4 separate regions of the Homo sapiens genome follow, and regions 1, 2 and 3 are each reported to be linked to region 4. Evidence: microRNA targets listed by miRTarBase, many of them from high-throughput screens and not tested one by one. Region 4 holds a microRNA gene; each other region holds the end of a gene's coding sequence.
Evidence for each region. Region 4 holds the annotated microRNA hsa-miR-920 (GGGGAGCUGUGGAAGCAGUA, at 2,262-2,281, shown strand). A microRNA usually pairs through its seed, bases 2 to 8, with sites in the 3' UTR of a target mRNA and lowers its output. Matches are read on the target gene's strand: a 7mer-m8 pairs with bases 2 to 8, a 7mer-A1 pairs with bases 2 to 7 and ends in A, and an 8mer does both.

Region 1 (5,600 bases), not on the chromosome of region 4:
GGCCAGCTGACAAGGTAGGTAGGTTTCAAAGACAGAGAAGGTGGACATTATTACTACTCTAAGGGAGAGTGACACAGCAGAGAAAAGCAGTGGGAGGCTCAGGCAGTGCTGTGTGTCCGTTTGAGGTTTGCGGTGGTGAATGACATTCAGGCCTGCACATGGCTCTGCATTTGTCTATAGCTTAGACGCTGGTGTTTGATGTGCAGGCACCTCAGTATGACTCCCAGGGCTGGGACTTAGCAGGGTGTGCTGCCTAAAGGAGGTTTTGGTATTATTTCTCTAATTAAAGGTAAAAAGAGAAATGAGGGATGTTGAGGGAAGCAGACATCAGGTCAGTGGACTGGGGGTCTCTGTGAGAACAAGCTGTCAAGTCATAAGGGCTGGCCGGGCGTGGTGGTTCACGCCTGTAATCCCAGCACTTTGGGAGGCCGAGGTGGGTGGATCACTTGAAGTCTGGAGTTTGAAACCAGCCTGGCCAACATGGCGAAACCCCGTCTCTTCTTAAAAAAAATACAAAAATTAGCCAGGCATTTTGGCACATGCCTGTAATCCCAGCTATTTGGGAGGCTGAGGCAGGAGAATCACTTGAATCCAGGAGTCAGAGGTTGCAGTGAGCCAAGATCATGCCACTGCACTCCAGCCTGGGTGACAGCACGAGACCCTGTCTCAAAAAAAAAAATGATATATATATATATATATCATATATATATATATATATGATATATATATATAGATCATAAGGGCTGTTGGAACTGGTTCAGCCAGAGGTGTTGGGAGTATAGGTTGGAGGAGAGGCTGTTGGAGATGAATTTGGGGCATATGTAGGAGGTAGGATGGCCAGGTCTTAGACATGGCTTGGATATGAGGTATGTGGGAGACAAGAAGCAAAGAGGACACCATATTTCAGGCCTGTGCTTTTGAATCGGCAACAGTGCTCTTTCTAAAGGTAAGAACATGAGAAAACCTTCAACTCTGGGAGGATGGGAAAGATCATGAGTTTGGTGGTAGATATGTGGATTTGAGGTCTGTCACATGTGCAGGAGATGTCAAGTGGGCAGTTGAATATTCTTGTCTGGAGCTCACAGGGGAGTTCTAGGTAAGAGGTATGAGAGTGGTTCACTATTTGAAGCTGTGAATGTGCACGAGGTCTTCCAGGGTAAGAGAGGATAGGGTGAGAAGCAGAGGGCCTCTGACTGATAGACAGAGGCACCTTGAGAGACCCAGCTTCAAAGGATGGGCAGGACTTCCCTGGGCAGGCCACATACTTGGGGCTGTCTGTGGCTGGGATGATTCGTTTATTCGCTTACTCAAAAACTATTGAAGACCAATTCTGTGCCAGGTATATTGTGGGTGCTGGGGATGCAGCCCTGATGTTCAGGTCCACAGCCCTGGGGTCTGTGGGACAGTGGGGTCCTGTCCCTGTCCAGTGGTGGTTGCAGTACCTCCCTGGGGTCCCTGAGCTGGCCTGCTCTTCCCACAGCTGCGCATGGAGTACCTCTCCCTGATGCATGCTATAGTCCGCACCACACCCTACCTGCAGCACCGCCACCGGCTACCCGACCTGCAGGCCATACTGCGACGCATCCTGAATGAGGAGGAGACCTCACCCCAGTGCCAGATGGACCGCATGATTGTCCGAGAGATGTGCAAGGAATTCCTGGTGCTGGGGGAGGCTCCCAGCTAGCACCTTGCTGTCCTCCCTTCCCTGCAGCTCCAGTCAGTGTGCAGGGGACTCAGGGGCTTGGCCCTAAGAATGTTTTGCACTGACAGTGGGAGGGGATAAGGTGGCAGAAGGAACCTGAGCAGGACCCCCACCTGAAGTAGAACTTAAGAGAGGGGCCAAGTGTAGGATTGGGGACCATGGTCTGGGAGCTGTTCTGGGGCAGGGGGAATATGCAAGCTAAAGCCCCTCTATACCCTGGTAGGCTTCCTCTTCAGCATGCCCCCCTCTTCACCCCACACCCATGTGTACACTCAGAGTCCTGCTGCCGCTCCAGGCTGGACCAGACCCCCATCCCCACCCCTCCTGGTCTGTATCCTGGGCCTCAGCAAGCCATGCCCCTGGGGTGAGGGGAGGCATCTCCCACCAGCTCTATTCTTTGCCTTAGCTTTGCAGTGAGTGCTGCTCATGTCCTCCCCTCCACCCGCACATGGGGGTCGCTGCCCTTCACTCCTACCCCCAGAGGCCTTGGCCAAGCTGCTGCTTTGAAAGCGGGATCTTGGAGACAGGCCATCCATCCTGGAGCCTCATGGAACAGGATGATGGCACTGAGAAAGCCAATGACCGAATCTCTTTTCTCTGTAAAAATGTAGACTGAAAAGCCATGTGTATTTTCCTATGTGCTGTAGCTCTCCTTTGGAAATAAATCACAGGCATCTGGAAACAGGCTTCCCTGTATGATCTTGGGAGACAGTGGGAGAGGATGGGCAGAAGTACTGGGGCCTCAGGACCCCATCACTGCAGCTTGCACTGACTTCTCCAGCCTGAGGAGGTGATGGACCCTGACAGGCCTGGCCTTCAAGGCCCTTTGAGCCCTGTTCTAGCCTCTCTTCCCTGAGCTCCACTTTTCCTGAGCCCCAGCCATAGCCAAGTGCCCCTCAGCAGCCCATTCGCAGGTGTCTGCATCTCCAGGCTTCACTTACACACTTACATCTTTCTTTTTCTCCTTTTTTTTTTTTTTGAGACAGTCTCACTCTGTTACCCAGGCTCACTGTAGCCTTGACCTCCCAGGCTCAAGTGATCCTCCTGCCTCAGCCTCCTGAGTAGCTGAAACTACAGTAGCCACCATGCCCAGCTAATTTAATTTTTTTTTTTTTTTTTGGTAGAGACAGGGTCCTACTATGTTGCTCAAGCAGGTCTCAAACACCTCAGTTCCGGTGATCCTCCTGCCTTGGCCTCCCAAAGTACGGGGATTATAGGCGTGACCCATCGCACCGGCCCGCTTACATCTTTCACTTACATCTTTTGCTTTGCTTTGAATACCGCTACTCTCTCCCCTGTTGAAACCCTATTGTCCTTCATAGTTGTTCTCAAATGAAGCAGGCCCCTACCTACCCCCAGCCCTGGCCTCTGAATGCTTGGGCCTGTCCAGCCCTATTTTCTTCCCCCATTTGTCCTTGTTTCCAGCAAGATCACCTCATCTTGCAACCTCAGCAGAGATCTGGTAATCATGGTAGGGCAGAAGGAGGGTCTTAACAAGCATGGGGTTACGTTTCCATTAGTGTTTTAGAGGAACTAAGGGCCAAAATTTGGCAAAAACTTCACTCTTGCAGACTCTCAAGTTAGCAAAGAAGTTCTCACCATAAGTTTGGGAGCAGAGTCAGAAACCCACAGGCAGACACCAGTCAGAAGTGTTGTTTCTGTTTTCTAGATTGAGTCTCACTATCTTTTCAAGGCTGATGTCCAACTCCTGTGCTCAAGCAGTCCTCCCACTTCAGCTTCCCGAGTAGCTGGGACTACAGGCACACACCACTATATAGGCTTCACACACAAGTGGTTTTCATCAGTTCCCTTTATTTTTTACCCAAACTCTTCATTCATCAGATGTTTCCACACATCAGCAATCACTGACACTGACTTCTGGTCATGACTTTTTCTTTCTTATTGGGGTGCTGAAAACAGAGGGCAGTTATCCTCCCAAAAAGAAGGTAAAGCAGCACAGGGAGGCAAGGGCTAGGGATGGGGCCCCCCAGCAAGAGGCTCTCAGAAGTTGAAGCAGCAACATTCCATAGGAAACCCATGGGAGGAAAGTATGGGGTCCTGGTGGGGGATGCCCTGCTCACCGCTTACTGTCAGAAGGCCAGGTGCACAAACTCACTGGGACCTGAGGAGGGGTTGACAGTGTTTGGCCCCCAGTAAAGCTCTGTGGGACACAACCTGGTTACTAACTTTTTTTTTTTTTCTTTTTGAGACGGAGTTTTGCTCTTGTCACCCAGGCTGGAATGCAATGGTGTGATCTCGGCTCACTGCAACCTCTACCTCCCAGGTTCAAGCGATGATTCCTCTGCCTCAGCTTCCCGAATAGCTGGGATTACAGGTGCCCACCACCACATCCAGCTAATTTTTGTATTTTTAGTAGAGACGGGGTTTCACCATGTTGGTCAGGCTGGTCTCGAACTCCTGATCTCAGACGATCCACCTGTCTCAGGCTCCCAAAGTGCTGGGATTACAGGTGTGAGCCACCGCGCCCAGCCCCCGCTTTTTTTTTTTTTTTTTTTTTTCAGATGGAATCGTGTTCTGTCACCCAGGCTGGAGTGCAGTGGTGTGATCTTGGCTCACTGCAACCCTTAACCTCCTGGGTTCAAGCAATTCTTCCTGCCTCAGCCTCCCCAGTAGCTGGTATTACAGGCGCCTGCCACCACACCCGGCTAATTCCTGTATTTTCAGTACAGATGGGATTTCGCCATGTTGGCCCGGCTGGTCTTGAACTCCTGACCTCAGGTGACCCACTCACCTCCGCCTCCCAAAATGCTGGGATTACACGCATAAGCCACCACGCCTGGCCTGGTTACTACTTTTAACCCTGGAGACATTCTGCCTCCTTTTCATATCCAAAGTCAATGACACTGACTTCCAGTCACAACTCCTTTCTCACTGGGGTGCGGAAGGCAGGGAAGTATTCTTATGAGATAGTGTATTTCAGTAAAAAGCACAGGTCCTCAGGAAGCTGAGGCAGGGACATCGGACAGCCTTTGTGACTTGCTGTGTTTCCTGTCATGATGCACACACAAACCCTGTGGGAACGGCAGGACTGTGCTGTGCCATCTGTCCCAGTGCTGGCACCTAGGTCAAACAAGGTATGGCCCCATGGCAGAAGCCTCTGCTCACTTCTGCAGGAGTGCCCAAGGTGGGCCCTGGCACCTGTTTGTAAGAGAAGCAGAAGCCCCAGCTGATGAAGTTACATACATGCTGACTCCTGGTAGCAAGCGTGCTCTGAGGGGACTCCAGGACCTCTTCAGCAAACACCCTTGTGGTGGCCTCACAACACAAAATTACAACCAAAGGCAGATTATGATTAGTCAGAGAAGTCCTCTTGGGGAGGGAACTGTCTTTGATAGAACACGTCTATGGCTGCGTGGAAGGTTGGTAGATGTGATATGTGGGTAGGCAGTAGGAAGGGCAATGAGACAGAGCATTAAGCCACCCCAAGAAAGGGGAGTGTTTGGGTAGAGTTGAGAAGAACTCAAATTTTGGGGGACAGTGAGGGGGTTTGGGCTGACTTCCTGGGTCAGAAGTTTCTGAAGCTGCAGCTAGGAATGGGTGTGTAAGTGTGCAGGTGGCTCACACCTGTAATCCTAGCACTTTGGGAGGCCGTAGAGGGAAAATCGCTTGAGCCCAGGAGTTTGAGACCAACCTGGACAGCATAGGAAGACCCCATCCCTACAAAAAATACAAAAATTAGCTGGGCGTGGTGGCCCACACCTGTAGTCCTAGCTACTCGGGAGGCTGAGGTGGAAGAATCACTTATGCTCAGGAGCAATTGCACCACTGCACTCCAGCCTGGGTGAGAGTGAGACCCCAACTCAAAAAAAAAAAAAAAAGTGCTGGCACCGTGTCTTTGGCATATGTGCTGAGCCATAAGCTGCACATGCATAAGGCC
Region 2 (5,600 bases), not on the chromosome of region 4:
TTGCAACAGAATTCTGGTCACTGTCTAATTGGTCAACGTATGTGTACCTCCTCTGCTGCCTTGATGAAATCAAGGTTTCTTGTCAGTTTCCTTCATTCTTCCTTTTCTGTTGTAGGTTACACTTTACTGTTATGACTTTTCTCTTCTACATACCTGTGTGCCACAGATCTATGAGAGATCTAATATATCCCATCTGTTCTTAAAGTGTTGTCTCCAGAACAGCAGCAGCAGCAGCATCACCTTGAACTTGTTCAAATTCTCCAGCCCAACCCAGTGCCACTGAATCAGAAACTCTGAGGTCCAGCAATCTGTTTGACAGGCCCAGGCACTCTGATGCATGCTAAAGTAAAAGAACCTGTGATTTATCACCTTACAAAGCCCTCTATCAAATATGCAACTTGTAATTCATGTTGTATACATTACTACTGAGTTAGTCACCAATATTTCGTATGATATACAAAAGTCTTAAGACTTGCCAGATTTAAGTGGTGGTGATTCCACTTTGGGAAGTGTAGGGGATGGTAAGATCAATATAGTTTAAAAAATGAGTCTCCATAAGGGAGAATATTGCTAGGTGTGGTAGAGACCAATTTTAATTTTAAAGATATACCTTTGAACTAGTTCAGTTGATTGAAAGTTAATCTGATGTGAGAACTGCTAATACTCAGTATAAAAAGAGCTTGATATTTCTTGAAATTAGGATGATGATATTCTGTCAGTGGTAGCTTGACTGGTTTCCGTGGGGAGACATTTCTGAAGGGAAACTAATTCTTAAGGAATATCTGCTGTGTGCCAAGCATTATTAGAAGCACTGTGCTGTGCTTCTCATAATTCACCTGCTGTGAATAGATTCACCTGCTGTGTCAATCCTCAGAACACTGAGACAGATGTACCCCCATTTCACTTAAAATTGTTGATTTTATGCGTTTCCTCAGAATAATCACTGAAGTTTTAGAGCCAGAAGAAAGCTAGCAACTCAACTTCTGTTATTTTTACAAATGGGGACAGTGAAAGGTTAAGTGATTTGACCATCACATTGCTGGACAGGTGGTTCTCAAACAAATAATGCTTCATTTAAAATATGTATAAAAACTCAGGGTCTGGAATCCTGAGGTTGCCAGATTATCCATTCCTTAACAAATAACTGGCACTGTTTGCAGTAGGGGCAAACAAATTCCTTGGATAGAATTTTAAATATTTACCTCAAATCTCCCCATATAAGAAAAATGTTTAGATATGCCCTCCCTTATTCACACGGCCTAGTATAAGATAAAGCGTATGTACTTGACTTTGCCATATCAGCAATTAGGGCAAGTTTAGACATATAACTTAGCATTTTGTGTAAATCATCAGAAGGCCTTTATTGTCCTATTTGTAGATGTGGAAAAATCTAGAATCCCTTCTGTTTAATTAGTGTATTTCAGTTTGGTTAAATCAAAGTCTTACATGTGGAGTTCATTGGAGTAAACTTTTGAGTCCTTCTAACAATCAGTTTCTTCAACTATGAGGTTAAACATACAAATCATTCTAGCACAGAAGTATCAGTGTGTATACTTTTAAGTGCTGGTGATAAGAACCACTGCATGGATCTGTGGTTGAGGTTTCCACAGCCCAGAAGTGGAAAGTTAGAGTGAACAAAGGGACCATGAACTCGCCATCCTTGAGAAGACTGGCAGAGTTCTACCTTTCTATTGCTGCTGACAAAGGGAGCTGGAATCAGTTTCTTACACCCACACAAATATCCCAGTTCTTTCACAACATCAGATAAAATGCCTAATGCCATTAATATATAGGTTCATCACCAGTAAGAACTGCCCTGCTGTTTGTTATTACATGAGTAACGCTTGTCATGTGTTTTAACCGGGCTCCTTGCAAAGAATCAGTTTTCATTCACCAATTGTTTTGAATCCTGGTGGCAAGCCCAGCTCCCTTTTGTCTGAGATGTCCCCAGTGTGACCTGAGGAACCTGGGCAAAGGCCCAGCGAGAGGGTCTGGAAGCTCTAGACAAATCACCCGAGTTCTCAGACTGCCCAGAAGTCTGTGAGTACAGGAAGAGGGAGACTCTCCTCAGGGATTCCCAAATCTGGCTATCAAAGTCATTGGAGAGCTTTCAAAAAGTCCAAGCTCTGAGGCTACACCCTGAAGGTTACACATTAGTAATTTATTATTAAATTTATCGAGTGCTTACAGCAGACCAGGTCTCTTATAGGTTCTTTATAGAAATTATTGATTCATGGAACCCTCACAGCAATCTTATGTGGTAGGTACCACTGTTTCTCAGATGAAGGAATTGAGGCACAGAAAAGTTCTTGCCTGAGTTTGTGCAGCTAGGGAATGGCAGAGCCAGGATTCTGGCCCTAGAACACACATTCTTAACACTATGTTGCTCTGGGTCAGTTGAGAATGTAACATAGGCGGTCTGCTTCCTCCCATCCACCTCAGGTCTTAGCATAAAGCATATGTCATATAGCAATAAAGCTGTCATTAAAAGGAAAAGCAAATGCCAGTTGTCAGGAGTTAGGGATGGCAGAGGGCAGGGGAGTGGGTTGACTGTAAAGGGGTACTGGAAGGGGGTCTTTGAGGTGCTGGAAAGGTTCTATATTTTCTCTATAGTGTTGGTTACATGAATATACTCATGATAAAATGGCATCACACACATTGTACCAATGTCAGCTGCCTGGTTTGATATTGTACTACCGTTTTGTAAGCGTAGCCACTGGGGAAAATGGGTGAAAGGTACACAGGACTGCTCTGTACTATTTTTGCAACTTCCTGTGAATCTATATTTCAAAATAAAAAGTTAAAAAAGCCTACGCCTACTTTTGGCAAGCCTCATATCCATTAGAAGCCTGCCTCTTTAAGACTGATGTAAATAGAGATTGTTCTTGGAAGACAAACCTCATTCTGCTTAGGGTAAGAAAAGCACTCTCAGCCGGGTGCGGTGGCTCACGCCTTTGTAATCTCAGCACTTTGGGAGGCCGAGGCGGGCGGATCACGAGGTCACAAGATCGGGACCATCCTGGCTAACATGGTGAAATCCCATCTCTACTAAAAATACAAAAAATTAGCCAGGCGTGGTGGCAGGCGCCTGTAGTCCCAGCTACTCGGGAGGCTGAGGCAGGAGAATGGCATGAATCAGGGAGGCAGAGCTTGCAGTGAGCCGAGATTGTGCCACTGCACTCCAGCCTGGGCGACAGAGTGAGATTCCGTCTCAAAAAAAAAAAAAAAAAAAAAAAAAAAAAGAAAAGCACTCTTAGTCTGGGCAGAGCAGGGGCACAGGGTAGTGGTGGTAACAGGAGCTGAGCAAGGTCACCAATAGCAGAGTCAAGCACTCTGCTGACTACATTACACCATGGGGACTGGAACCAGTTCCTTATGTCTTGCAGTGATTCCCAGATGACTAGTGCCCAGCTGTCTAAATGGGAACCCTGGGGAAAGAGCTAAATGAACACAGAATCTGTGCCCCACGCCTGGGAACCCTGGGGAAAGAACCAAATGAACACAGAATCTCTGCCCCACGCCTGGGAACTCTGCCTCAGTAGGTCAAGGACAAGGTCTGTTAGGTTACATTTTAAAAGCTCCCCAGGTGATATGAGCTTGAGAACTTTAGATTACAGAGTAGTGATAAAGCTGAATCTCCAATAACATCACATGAGTCAGCCACCACGGACACTGTAAAACAAGCCCTTGGTTTTCATAGGGTTGGTATGGCTCAGAGAGATAAGGATGATGTTCATGTCATATATGAAAACATCCAAAGTGTAGATACTCTTTCTGAATGCTGGTATAAACAATGAAATATTACAATGAATTGCTTTTTCTTCTGCATCATTCCTATTTGGTTACTTACCAAGTTTCTCCTAGGAGTACATGTAGTTACAAACAAGAACATAATTCTATTACAAATGTCTTAGGCTATCAGGTGTGTTGCTAAATTAAGAATTTTTTGTCCACAAGTAACAAAATTCTCAACCAACAGTAACATAAACAACACAACACAGGGCTCTGTTAGTCTCCTATAATAAGAAGTCCAGAGTAGGTGGTTGCTGGTATTGGTCCCGCAGCTCAAGAGACTGGGGCTGACATCTCTGCAGTACTTGGCCTTTCTTTTTTTTTGAGACAGTCTCTCTCTGTCGCCAGGCTGGAGTGCAGTGGCGGCATCTCGGCTCACTGCAACCTCCGCCTCCCGGGTTCAAGAGATTCTTCTGCCTCAGCTTCCCAAGTAGCTGGGACTACAAGTGCATGCCACCATGCCCAGCTAATTTCTGTAGTTTTAGTAGAGACAGGGTTTCACCATGTTGGCCAGGATGGTCTCAATCTCTTGATCTTGTGATCCACCTGCCTCGGCCTCCCAAGTGCTGGGATTACAGGCGTGAGCTACCACACCTGGCCTCAGCCTTTTCTTTATGGCCACAAGATGACAGCTGTAGCTCCAGCCTCTCCACATTCCAGACTGGATGAAGGGGAAGGGGCAGGACCACTGGCGTTCTATTCCTGTCCCACTGGCCAGAACCATCTCTCATGGCCACCCGTGGCTGCAAAGGAGTCTAGGAAATTGAGTACCACCCTTTCACAGTCTCTATGACAGAGACAGGAAAGGAAGATGGGGAGGGATTGGGTGTAGATGAGGCAACCTACAGTGTCTGCCACGGCTTTCAAATTACAATTTATCAAGTACTTTTTAATTAAATCCACAAACAGCTGATCAGATACAAAGTAATAAATTATCACAGAAAATATTGATATGAAAATCAAGCATAAGGATCTCCACTGTCAGTAATTCTACACATATGTATTGGTCTTTCATTCTGTGTTGGAACTAATTCTAGTTGTTTAAGCACTTCTGTTCCTTCAATCAGTTGCCTACATAGGAGAAAAAAATGGAAAATTTAGTCAGTCATAAGTTTTCATATTTAGCTTAACATTCCGAAATGGGGTCCTACCCAGCTATAGCTAAGACTATTTCCTACAAATTGAATGAACATCAGCTCTAAGTATCCTAAACCTCTCTGGATGTGTGCACTTTACCACACCTGCAGTATCCAGGGCCATCATCCAGGCAGCTGGCCTCCTGCCGCAGCTCTAAGCTGGCTTCCTCCATCTGCTTGGCACCCTCCCCTCTGTTTTTCTCCCTGCAGTCAGGGTGATTTTTTTTTTTTTTGAGACAGGGTCTCACTCTGTTGCCCAGGCTGGAGTGCTGTGGCATGATCTTAGCTCACTACAGCCTTGACCTCCTGGCTTAAGTGATCCTCCTGCCTCAGCCTCCTGAGTAGCCAGTGCTTACCAGGTGTGTGCCACTAGGCCTGGCCAATATTTTTGTTTATTTATTTTTGTACAGATAGGATCTTGCTATGTTGCCCAGGCTGGTCTTGAACTCCTGGCCTCAAGCAGTCCTCCCATTTTGGCCTCCCAAAGTGCTGGGATTATAAGTGTGCGCCACCACACCTGGCCAGCATGGTCTTTTAGAAATAGCAATCTGCTTTCATTTCCTTGCTCAAAACACGACAGTAATTTCCCATTATCCTTAGGATGAAGACTATAAGTCCCTGCCATTGCCTACCAGGGCCTGCACAGTCTATCTCCCACGGCCTCTCGGGGAG
Region 3 (5,450 bases), not on the chromosome of region 4:
TTCAGATTGCTACCGGTATTAATATGTACATTTTTGTTTTTATTCTGTTTAACCATGGCCTTCTGACCCTTACAAAGGAATGTAATATGCTATCTAGAAAATCAGGCTTCTAATTAGCCTGGATTTATCCAGTGCTATAAATACCCACTGGCCTACACTGTCAGGTTTCTTCTCCTGAGGGGGAAAAATAAAAGAATAATGTAGTAATGTAGTAAACAAATACATCCTAAGGTGGGCCATGTGACATTTTGACAAGTGTGCAGTTATTAAGGATTATTAATTATCAAGTTTTAATAAACTTTTTCCCTTTTTCTTTTAGCTCCTGGTATTATTGCCTGCACATTCTTGGTATCTTAGTATTATTGTTGTTGCCAGTGAAAAAAACTCAAAGAAGAAAGAATACACATGAAAACATTCAGCTCTCACAATCCAAAAAGTTTGATGAAGGAGAAAATTCTTTGGGACAGAACAGTTTTTCTACAACAAACAATGTTTGCAATCAGAATCAAGAAATAGCCTCGAGACATTCATCACTAAAGCAGTGATCGGGAAGGCTCTGAGGGCTGTTTTTTTTTTTTGATGTTAACAGAAACCAATCTTAGCACCTTTTCAAGGGGTTTGAGTTTGTTGGAAAAGCAGTTAACTGGGGGGAAATGGACAGTTATAGATAAGGAATTTCCTGTACACCAGATTGGAAATGGAGTGAAACAAGCCCTCCCATGCCATGTCTCCGTGGGCCACGCCTTATGTAAGAATATTTCCATATTTCAGTGGGCACTCCCAACCTCAGCACTTGTCCGTAGGGTCACACGCGTGCCCTGTTGCTGAATGTATGTTGCGTATCCCAAGGCACTGAAGAGGTGGAAAAATAATCGTGTCAATCTGGATGATAGAGAGAAATTAACTTTTCCAAATGAATGTCTTGCCTTAAACCCTCTATTTCCTAAAATATTGTTCCTAAATGGTATTTTCAAGTGTAATATTGTGAGAACGCTACTGCAGTAGTTGATGTTGTGTGCTGTAAAGGATTTTAGGAGGAATTTGAAACAGGATATTTAAGAGTGTGGATATTTTTAAAATGCAATAAACATCTCAGTATTTGAAGGGTTTTCTTAAAGTATGTCAAATGACTACAATCCATAGTGAAACTGTAAACAGTAATGGACGCCAAATTATAGGTAGCTGATTTTGCTGGAGAGTTTAATTACCTTGTGCAGTCAAAGAGCGCTTCCAGAAGGAATCTCTTAAAACATAATGAGAGGTTTGGTAATGTGATATTTTAAGCTTATTCTTTTTCTTAAAAGAGAGAGGTGACGAAGGAAGGCAGGAATGAAGAAGCACTGCGTGGCCTCCGGTGGAATGCACGGGGCACAGCCGCGACTCTGCAGGCAGCTTCCCCCCCATGCCAGGGCTCTGCGCCGTCATGTGAGACTTAAAAAAAAAGTTGAATGACTTCGTGATACTTTGGACTTCTAAATTAAATTTATCAGGCATAAATTATGTAGAATTAGAGGCTTTGAAAATAATACTGGTAGGTTGCTCAAAGGTTTTGAAAGAGAAATCGCTAGGTAGGTTACTATCTGGCTAATCCATTTCTTATCCTTGACAATTTAATTCATATTTGGGAAACTTTTAGGGAAATGAAAAATAAAAGTCACTGAGTCTGGGTGACATTTTTTAAGAATAATATAAATTCAGTTTCAAACTCTTCTCACATTAAAATTTTGCTGTGAACTCTTACTAAAATGAGTTTTAGGTTCTGTAAGTGGAAAAATGTGCTTTTATTTTATGGGCCATTTTTACCACAACTAATCTTGCCTTGGATTACTAAGCATCTCCTGCGATCCCACAGAGGACTGTGGTGGCCACAGGAGCTGAAAGCAGAAGAGTGGGATTTGATGCCAGGCAGTGGAGTGGCCTCAGCCCCAGATTGTACCTCCTGCCCTGTAGGAGGGGAGGGGGCAAAGCCTTCTGACTTCACCTTTGTTTGACCTATGTATGGAACTTACTTTTACTTTTTGCCTTAAATTTTTAATGAAATGCAAATTTTCTGTGATGGGGTTCTCTCTCTCTTTTTTTCGGGGGGTGGAGTCACTAATAAATTTGCAAATGAAGTTAAAGACAAGGCAACCATCTGGCTTATGCTATATAATACTTCATTTAAAGAAGAAAGGAAAAGCAAATGCACTTGCAGCTTTTGAGGTCTCAGCAAAAATGGGCATGTGTCTTTTTTGAAGTTTAGAAATATCCTAATCTATTTTTATTTATCTAAAAGTAAGTGTTTTCCGGCTGATAAGGCTAACCCTACCCAGGAAAGGATTGATAACTAAATAAATTTCCTCTGTTTTCCCATGCATTGAAATTATGTTGGCTGAGCATGGTGGCTCACACCTGTAATCCTAGCACTTTGGGAGGCCGAGGTGGGCGGATCACTTGAGGTCAGGAGTTGGAGACCAGCCTGGCCAACGTGGTGAATCCCCGTCTCTACTGAAAACACAAAAATTAGACGGGCATGGTGGCGCACACCTGTAATCCCAGCTACTTGGGAGGCTGAGGCAGGAGAATTGCTTGAACCTGGGAGGTGGAGGTTGCAGTGAGCTAAAATTGTGCCACTGCACTCCAGCCTGGGTGACAGAGGAAGACTCCGTCTCACAAAAAAAAAAAAAGAAAAAAGAAATTATGCCAGCTGTTTAATGTGAGAGAATAGAAAGAATGTTCATGGAATGTACCTGCCCTGTAAAATGTTTGATCATTTTCATTAATGTTGCAGAGAATCCGACTGCTATTAAGAGAAAGTGAACAAATTAAGAATTTAAAAGACAGGTTCAGGCATGTCATAAGTGAAAACAAGAAGGCTTAATACAAACTTGTTGGGTTTTGTTCGTGTGTGTGTGTGTGTGTGTGTGTGTGTTTTTTTTTGGTTCAGCCTATCTAGCCACCTACAAATAATCACATTTCTGTTACCTGAATTTATTTCTCAGCCTGTAAACCTTAGTCACTGTTACCTGTTTCTTGCTCAGTGAATATGATCTTGGCACTGTCATCTAGAAAGCAAGATATTTGATTGGTTTTCTGGTTCCTTCGAAGATAATAATTCCATATCCAGTTTGACTGATTTTCATACCCCTGAATCAACTAGTTATTTTCATGAAATGGTTTTTGGATATCTCTCCTCTAGTTTGGAGAAGTAATAATCACAAAGATTAATATTTTGCTTCTAGTACTTACAGTAGAAGAATTTTAAACTGGTACGTCTACTCCTGTTAAATAGAAAGGGGATTCGTTGTATTATGTGCTTGCTTTTTTTTAATCAATAGAATAAGATTCAATGCATATTTATGTTTTATATTTTCCACTATTCAGGTATCATGAAATCACTCTAGAGATGATCAATCAACATCATATTTATACTTTTGGTTAATTATATACTACTCAGGGAAAAAATGAACAAAAATAACTACTCATCCTTCAATTTCATTTTCTTGAAACAGTAAGAGTATAATTTGGTATGCCTCAGCTGTCACCATTTTATAAGTGGCTCATTCTGTTCTTAAAGTAAGTATTTTTATTGGAACTCAGGGTAATTGGGGGAATTTATTTAGCTTCTAAAATATCCGGCAGGATAGAGAAGATTTATTTGGCTTCAAAAATGTCTGGTGACCACTTCTCTTATTAGCCACTACTGCCCATTTGCTTCAAAAATATATTTATTGGTCTCCACCATGTGTGACACACACAGGATTTCCAAACATACCACTTTTGAGAAAAATGTGCAGTAAAAAGGAGGTTTCTAGAAAGTGACAGTAACTCACATTTAAGCACTAGCTGACCTAGGAGGAGACCTGGATCTTCATTCTGGTTCTGCCTTTCATGAGACTTAAGACTTGGAGGAGCCACCTGTCCTGTAGACCCCAAGTTCCTCAGCCATAAGCAAACGGGTTAATCCTAAGAGTTCAGGACCAGTTGGGTGTCGTGAACGGAGCCATTAGCAAGGTCTGTAGGATTCAAGGACTTGGGCACATTCACAGTCCACACTATTGTCATGGTCATTGACTTACTACTTGAGCTCAAAGCCCTGACATTTCAAAAGGTTGTCATGATAACAGTGAAACCTCTGAATCCCTTAAATCAGAAGGCATGGCAACATACTTTTTCTACTGGCAATAGCTCTTACAATGAGTGTTTCATAATGAAATAGTCTCTGCTGAAGAAAACATGTTTTCCTTTTGCTCTCTCTGCTTTGTTGGTTTCTGTGCTGTGTGGAATTGGAGAAGATATATGCTCTGAAATATTTTATACAGATTACTGACTACTGGACAGGGTTTACCACTATATAACATCTCAAAGTTATTCAAGGATATTTAAAGCATATTTAGTTTAGTTACACCTTATTTTAAACCGCAGAAAACAATAGCTTTAAAATTTTTGCCATTAAAATAATTATAAATTTATACTTTTACTCAAGGACTAGATCACAGTTTTAGGACAAAAATCTCTCCTATTTAAAGTTCATACCTTGTAAGTATTTAGTTTGTATATTCATGAACAAATCTGGACATTTATACTTTTTTTGTTTCCTTATCAACTGTTCACAATTATTAGTTAATTGGTCTTAACAGTTCTACATTATAATTGAAAGAAAAATTACTTGAGAAAATAATTGTTTCAGAATAGTGCCTACTATATCTGTGTCAGCTAAAAATTTGTCCAGAGTTTTAGATATAAGCTAGTATTTTGTGGAGTTTTATCCAGGCGTTAATAGTTCTTCCTGGCTGAAATTTAATATAGGTGCAGAATCCTAAATAACACTGTGAGATGTAATCTTAACTGCCCTCAATACCTTATAAAACTGCTGCATTTAACCCAGTGTGCATTTAATGAGTGGCTGGTCGTTGATACACTCATCTTAGATGCTGAAATTTCTGTTTTCTCCAGCCCTTGTAAAAGTGGGTTTCTTGATGAACGCGTGCTCCCAATGCTGAAGCAAAAGATTTGCATTTAAGGAGAGAAATACACCCTGAAATTTGAGTTTGAAAGATTAGAACATAGAGGGTCTCTACAGTGTTTTTCTGCAACACCAAGTAGTCAAATCTATTTATAGAAACTCTGATTACAACAGAAATTTTAAAATGAAATTTTCCACATCGGTATTTTGTAGGAAAGCTCTTATAATCAATGCTTAAGCTGCTTTTTGAGGCTTTTCTTGTACAGAGGTTGCAGCCAATTACATTTTAATTGGTAGGCTGCTGAATAATGTTTTTGTATGTTTTAAAATAATATTTATTTTAATAGGTTTTTTAACATTATGCAAATCCCAATAAAGAACTGACACGTTCCATAGGCCATTGACTGGGAAATTTTGTGAAACACAGCCTAAATACACAGTTTTTACACCAACTAATTTGTCTTGCCTTTAAAACTGATTATAACTCTTCTTTAAGTACAACTTT
Region 4 (5,600 bases):
ACCCATTTTCTCTTTATTACCTAATATGTGTACAATGGCTTGACAAATGTGAAGGAACTGCAGCAATAACAACACTGCACTTCTCCCATAGGTCATGGAGGAGGCAAACAGAGGTCAAAGATGGCAAGTCACCCAGCTAGTAAGTTTCAGAGCTGCCTCCAGAATTCATGCCTGCTAATTCATACTAAATTGATTTGTTTCAACTACTCTGTCTTTCCTGCTCATAAATAGTCTCATGGATTGGGATAATTATAATAAAAGAGTTACATAATTTTCAAACATCTTCTCTTTCAAATAGGAGATAAAATTCAGGACTTCTTTCTGGACTTACAGAAAGTTATGTGGTTAGGGTTGAAATGATAAATGGCAAACAAATGAGAAATTCAGCTGTGCCAAGTAACTAACTGAATGCACACAATTTTTAAATATTATATATCATTATCATTAAGGTCCCTATTATAAAACAATGTTATTATACAAAGCCAAAAACCGTAATTCAAACTCAAGAGAATTCTGTGAATTAAAGACATGGAAAAGAAAAAGGATAGCTGTATTATCTAACATTAGCCCCTTGAACACAATCATCAGTCAATATCCTGGTTAGACAATGTTGCCCTAATCATTATTAAATCTATTTTTACTCATAATTTAGATTCTGTCTATAAAGGGACATTTTTTAAATGATGTACACAACTTGTAAGTGAGACTGATCCTTAAAACATATGAACCATAACATGCTCCTCATCTGCTAAGATTCCTTTAATGATCTCCATCTCCCTCAGAATAATAGTCAAGGTCCTATTATGGTCTACCAGGCTGTAAATGATGAACACCACTCACCCTCCATAGCGTCATCTCTCACTTGTCTGCTCCTGTCTTCCTGCCACTGCCCTTGCCATTCCTTCAACACACCAAGCACACTCTTCATACTGACTCTTCCTGTTGAATGTACCTCTCTTCCCCCACATTTTGAAATTGTTCTCTTACTCCATTCAGTCCTCTATTCCATTCTCTCCTTATCAAAGAGCCTTTCCCTAGACAGTGTATCTGAGGAGGTATTTCAGTGTTCTCTAGTATCTCTGCTTTATTTTTCTTCTTAGTACTTATCCCCACTGACATACACATCAAAATCTTCACTTTATGTTTTCTTCCATAGGAATGAAAGCTCTGGGAGAGTAGGAATTTTCCTTGTATGAATAAATGAATTAATGAATGGATAATCATCTTTTTATTTCATCTAGCTAAACAGAAAACTTCTCCAGGGAAATGACTCTATCAAAAACATTTTTAAGTTCTTGATTTCTTTGAATATTAGTATAATCCAAAGTGAAGTGTTAGTACCAATAGCATTCTTTATCAAATGATAAGTTGGCAAAATGGCAAATATGATGGTATTTTTATGTGTGTGCACAATGTAGTATACAGAATGATTTGTGTTCCATAACCTGTGAGGTAGCATAATGTAGTAGACCTGCATCATGCCAAGAAACATAGATTTAGTTCTGTTACTAATGTTCCATGTGACAGAGGAGAGTTATTTAGACTTGTGAAATAAGTTGATTGGACCAAGTTTCTTTCTGTCTCATAAGACTACAGGGATCTATGAGATGTTTGTCCCTTCCTTCTTTATTTTGCTTCCAAACATGTGAAAGCCAAACAACAAGTGTATTCAATTTAAGGCCAATATTTATATAATTGTTGGATGACAAGAACATCCACAACGTTTAGCTTCAACTTATTTGGTTTTAATGTTTATTTCCATAATATTTGCAAACTAAAAATTTGGGAATGTTTATTATCAGAATACTCTTTATCAAAGTATCATTGAAGAGTGGTTCTTAACTCTGCAAGAATCAGTGCAGACACACTTACTTTGGCGTATCATTTTAAATACAGCTTTTTGCAGGACTCTTACCATTTAGCTAAAAGCAGAGAGTTAAGCATATGCATTGCATGAAGATATAGTCGAAATTTATCTTCCCTTTAAGCGGGTAAGGAGTGTTCTCTCAAGGTACATGCCAATAAAAATGTGTCCAATCCCTAATGTCCTAATGTTCATGCTAAAACATAACAAAATCTCTGAGGCATCCAGATAGAATAACTTTAAGCTTAGTTCCTTTAGGAGTAAGTCATTTTAATTGAAGAGATCTGATCACACTGAAGGACAAAGACATTTATCTCTCTGTATAATGAAAACTGAAAAAGCCACTGGTAGTTGTTCTACAGAAGACCTGGATGTGTAGGAGCTAAGACACACTCCAGGGGAGCTGTGGAAGCAGTAACACGGGAGGGGTTACAAGGAAGGAAGGATTACAAGGAAGGAGGGGACCACCAAGTCTTCACTCATAACTAAGCAATAATAGTGAGAGTTGTGAGCATTGTTGAAACAACCAAGACACTTCCCTGGACCCAGGAATGAACACACAGCCATTAGCCACAATCATGGCAATGGGGACTTCAAAGGCCAGTGTGGCTCTAGCTTACTGAGAAACGTGACTAAAACTAACCTTGCACAATGACTGCTGAATGCTCCCAGGAGACTCTTTGACTATTGAGATCTTTTATTTACATAGAAATTGATTTAATTAACTCTCATTTCATACATGGTAGTCAATATTCTCTGGTTACTATTAGCGTTGGCAAACAGATTGACTCTGAAGAGTGTCAAGAGCTTTTAGAGGTGGACACCAGCACAGAGTACATGGCAGAGAAGAGAAGAAACTCGATTTTCATGACCTGGGTGCTCCTCCCTACAATTACATATTTATTAACATTCTACATGTTTTAAGAATTTGATTCTTAAAAGTCATTAAGGGAAAGTCATTAAGAAGTTTCACTTCAAAACAGTTTATACAAGGAAAAAAATATAGAAAAAATATAAATTCAGGCATCTATGTAACTTATGTAAGATTTTGTTTCTATTCTTGATAGTTTTTAAATTATTTTCATCTTCAAACTATAAAAGGAAGATGCCCAAATGCTCAACTTCTTACATTATTAGAGTATTATTCATAATTTGCAAACCAAGAACAACTCAAGCACATGGAAGAAATAAGCAAGTGGCAAGAGATTTGAGAATTGTAAAACTGATGGCAAAAGAATGACCAGCAAATGGTAATGTAAATGTCCTGACCTGCTGAGTCTCCCAGTCCAATCTCTCCCACTCCCGGTGTCCTGATGTCCTTGATATTATCTATTTCTTGAAATGCTAAAAAAAAAAAAAAAAAAAAGAAAAAGAAAAAGGAAGAAAAATTGAAACAAAGAAAGAAAATATTAAGTGAGAAATCAGAGTAATTCCAAATAAATAAAAAAATTGAAAATGATAAAGATAGTTAAATGAGATTTCTATTGCAAAATGTTGGAAAAAATATTAAGTACTTTCATTATAATAATTTTTTTTTTTTCTAGACCAGATTCATAGCCATAAAACAACATCAGACTCATACGACTGTGCTAGTTAGTGGCTAATGAATGAAAAATCAATGAAAAACTAAACAATTTTTATTAATGACATTTCAAGATACAGCGACAACTGAAATGTAAAAATATGAACTAATTATTTTGGAGCCATATTAATTAAATCACTTAAAAGTCATCATATGATTAATTCAGCCATGTGAGCATGCATGTGTGATGCACAAACTCACTCACACAAGTGTGTGTGTATAGCCTGAAGTGATCCTAAGCCTAGTTTTACTGAGACAATTACAACCATTTTTTATAGTCCATGATAGTTTAAAATATATATATATATAATGTAATATTACTTAGAGCTACAATACTTTACGCAAAACATTCTAACGGGCACTGAAATGTATGGAATACATATGTGTATAAATTTATAGAATAAAACTTATGGAATACATGTATATGTATAAATTTATGAAATAAAATTTATAGAATACATAAGCACTTAGCAAAGCACGGTGCTACATTGTACTAGGACACTAAGTTATAGAAGAATAAATACTTCATAAACCCATTGAATAATTTCCAGGCAAAAATACCAACAATAGAAAGAACAAAATAAAAACAGAAACACTCTATAAGTAGTCACTTTATCAGAGACAGACTGCAGGGTCATAAAAGCAGAATTTAATTATTGATTTCTGGGAATGTTTTTGCAAATTTATCTAACCTCTTGGAGGCTTATTTTCCCAATCTACAAAATGGCTTCATAAGCTTGTCATGAACCCCAAATCTAAGTTTTCAATACATACAGCTATTTTATTATGATTTTATTATTTATTTGTGATTGTGGAATATTTTTTATATGGGGAAGTTCATCAGCTATTGTCTGCTTTTTAAGGTTTGGCCACCAAAATGACTACATTATATGACTTCAAGATGTTTATGCATTTATTAATTATATGTGGGATCTTGCAACAAGCTTATTAAAATTGTATAAATAAAAAGCTTATCAATTTTTTGTCTTAGGTTGGTCCTATATTATCAACCAGATTATGCAGGTCAGTATTTTAATGACAATACTTCAAACTGTACTTACAGGAAAACAGAATTCCACTTCTGAAATACTGGTCTAACATACCAGAGCTACAGACTTAGAGGTAATCTAAGACCAGGTGACTTGTGCAACTTTTATTTATTAATTTATATTCTTTTTCATTTTAAAAAGCCTAAATAATTTTGGAATATTTAGATCATTTTAGAGTACATAAAATGGCAAGAAGAATTACACTCTATAACCAAGTAGGATTTATCCCAGGAATGCAAAGTTGATTTACCATATAAATATCAAATAACATACCATACCATATTAATAAAGGGAAAAATCATACAATATCTCTATAGATGCTGAAAAGCATCTGACAAAATCCAACACCCTGCTTTAAAACCATCAAAACATTAAACAAACTAGCAATAGAAGGAAACTTCCTCAACCTAGTAAAGACCATCTATGAAAAATCTACAACTATAATACTTAATGGCAAAACATTAACTGTTTTCTCCTTAAACTAAGGAACAAGAATGTTTGCTCATACCACTTTTATTCAACATTTTATTAGAGATTTCATACAGGTTCACTAAATAAGAAACAGAAAGAAAAGGCATCCAGGCTGGAAAGAAAGAAGTATGATTATCGCTATTTGTAGATAACGTTATCATTTTTACTTAGAAAATCTTAAGGAAGTAATTAAAAAACTATAAGAGCTAAAGAACAAGTTCAGTAAGGTTGCAGGATAGTTGATCAATATATAAAAATCAATTGTATTTCTACAAACTAGTAATGAACATTCTGAAAATGATATCAAGGAAACAATTCCATTTATAATAGCATGGAAAGAATAAAATACTTCGGAATAAATTTAACATTAGAAGTCTAAGGCTTGTGAATCACAAACTATAAACATCTTTGAAAAAAATTAAAGAATATCTAAAAAATGAAAAGACAACCCACATTCATGGATGAGAAAACTTAATATTCTTAAAATGATAATACTTGCCAATTAATCTACAGATTGAACACAATTCTTATCAAAATCCCAGTTGGCTTTTTTACAGAAACTGTCAAGCTGATCCTAAAATTCATATGGACATACAAAAAGTCCAAAATAGCTACATCGATCCTGAAAAAAAAA

Region 1: miRTarBase lists NCKIPSD as a target of hsa-miR-920. The part of its 3' UTR that is shown has no 7-base or 8-base seed match.
Region 2: the mRNA of PPIL6 is a reported target of hsa-miR-920. The part of its 3' UTR that is shown has no 7-base or 8-base seed match.
Region 3: the mRNA of MBOAT2 is a reported target of hsa-miR-920. Seed matches in the 3' UTR shown: 7mer-A1 at 4,969-4,975.

Annotation. Positions count from the first base shown.
Region 1 is chr3:48,670,628-48,676,227 of GRCh38, reverse strand. It overlaps NCKIPSD (NCK interacting protein with SH3 domain), which reads left to right. Exons shown (of 13, transcript NM_016453.4): 13 at 1,481-2,384. The coding sequence ends at 1,684. Among named protein-coding and RNA genes, the nearest start is that of LINC02585, 9.7 kb to the right of the region's middle.
Region 2 is chr6:109,388,075-109,393,674 of GRCh38, forward strand. It overlaps PPIL6 (peptidylprolyl isomerase like 6), which reads right to left. Exons shown (of 8, transcript NM_173672.5): 8 at 2,141-4,863. The coding sequence ends at 4,752. Among named protein-coding and RNA genes, the nearest start is that of CD164, 8.4 kb to the left of the region's middle.
Region 3 is chr2:8,853,774-8,859,223 of GRCh38, reverse strand. MBOAT2 (membrane bound glycerophospholipid O-acyltransferase 2) reads left to right here. Exons shown (of 13, transcript NM_138799.4): 13 at 320-5,450. The coding sequence ends at 545. Among named protein-coding and RNA genes, the nearest start is that of KIDINS220, 19 kb to the right of the region's middle. RefSeq lists a silencer at 3,871-4,165 and an enhancer at 3,755-4,306.
Region 4 is chr12:24,210,210-24,215,809 of GRCh38, forward strand. It overlaps MIR920 (microRNA 920), which reads left to right and starts at 2,212; the gene lies at 2,212-2,286. It also overlaps a transcript of SOX5 not described here.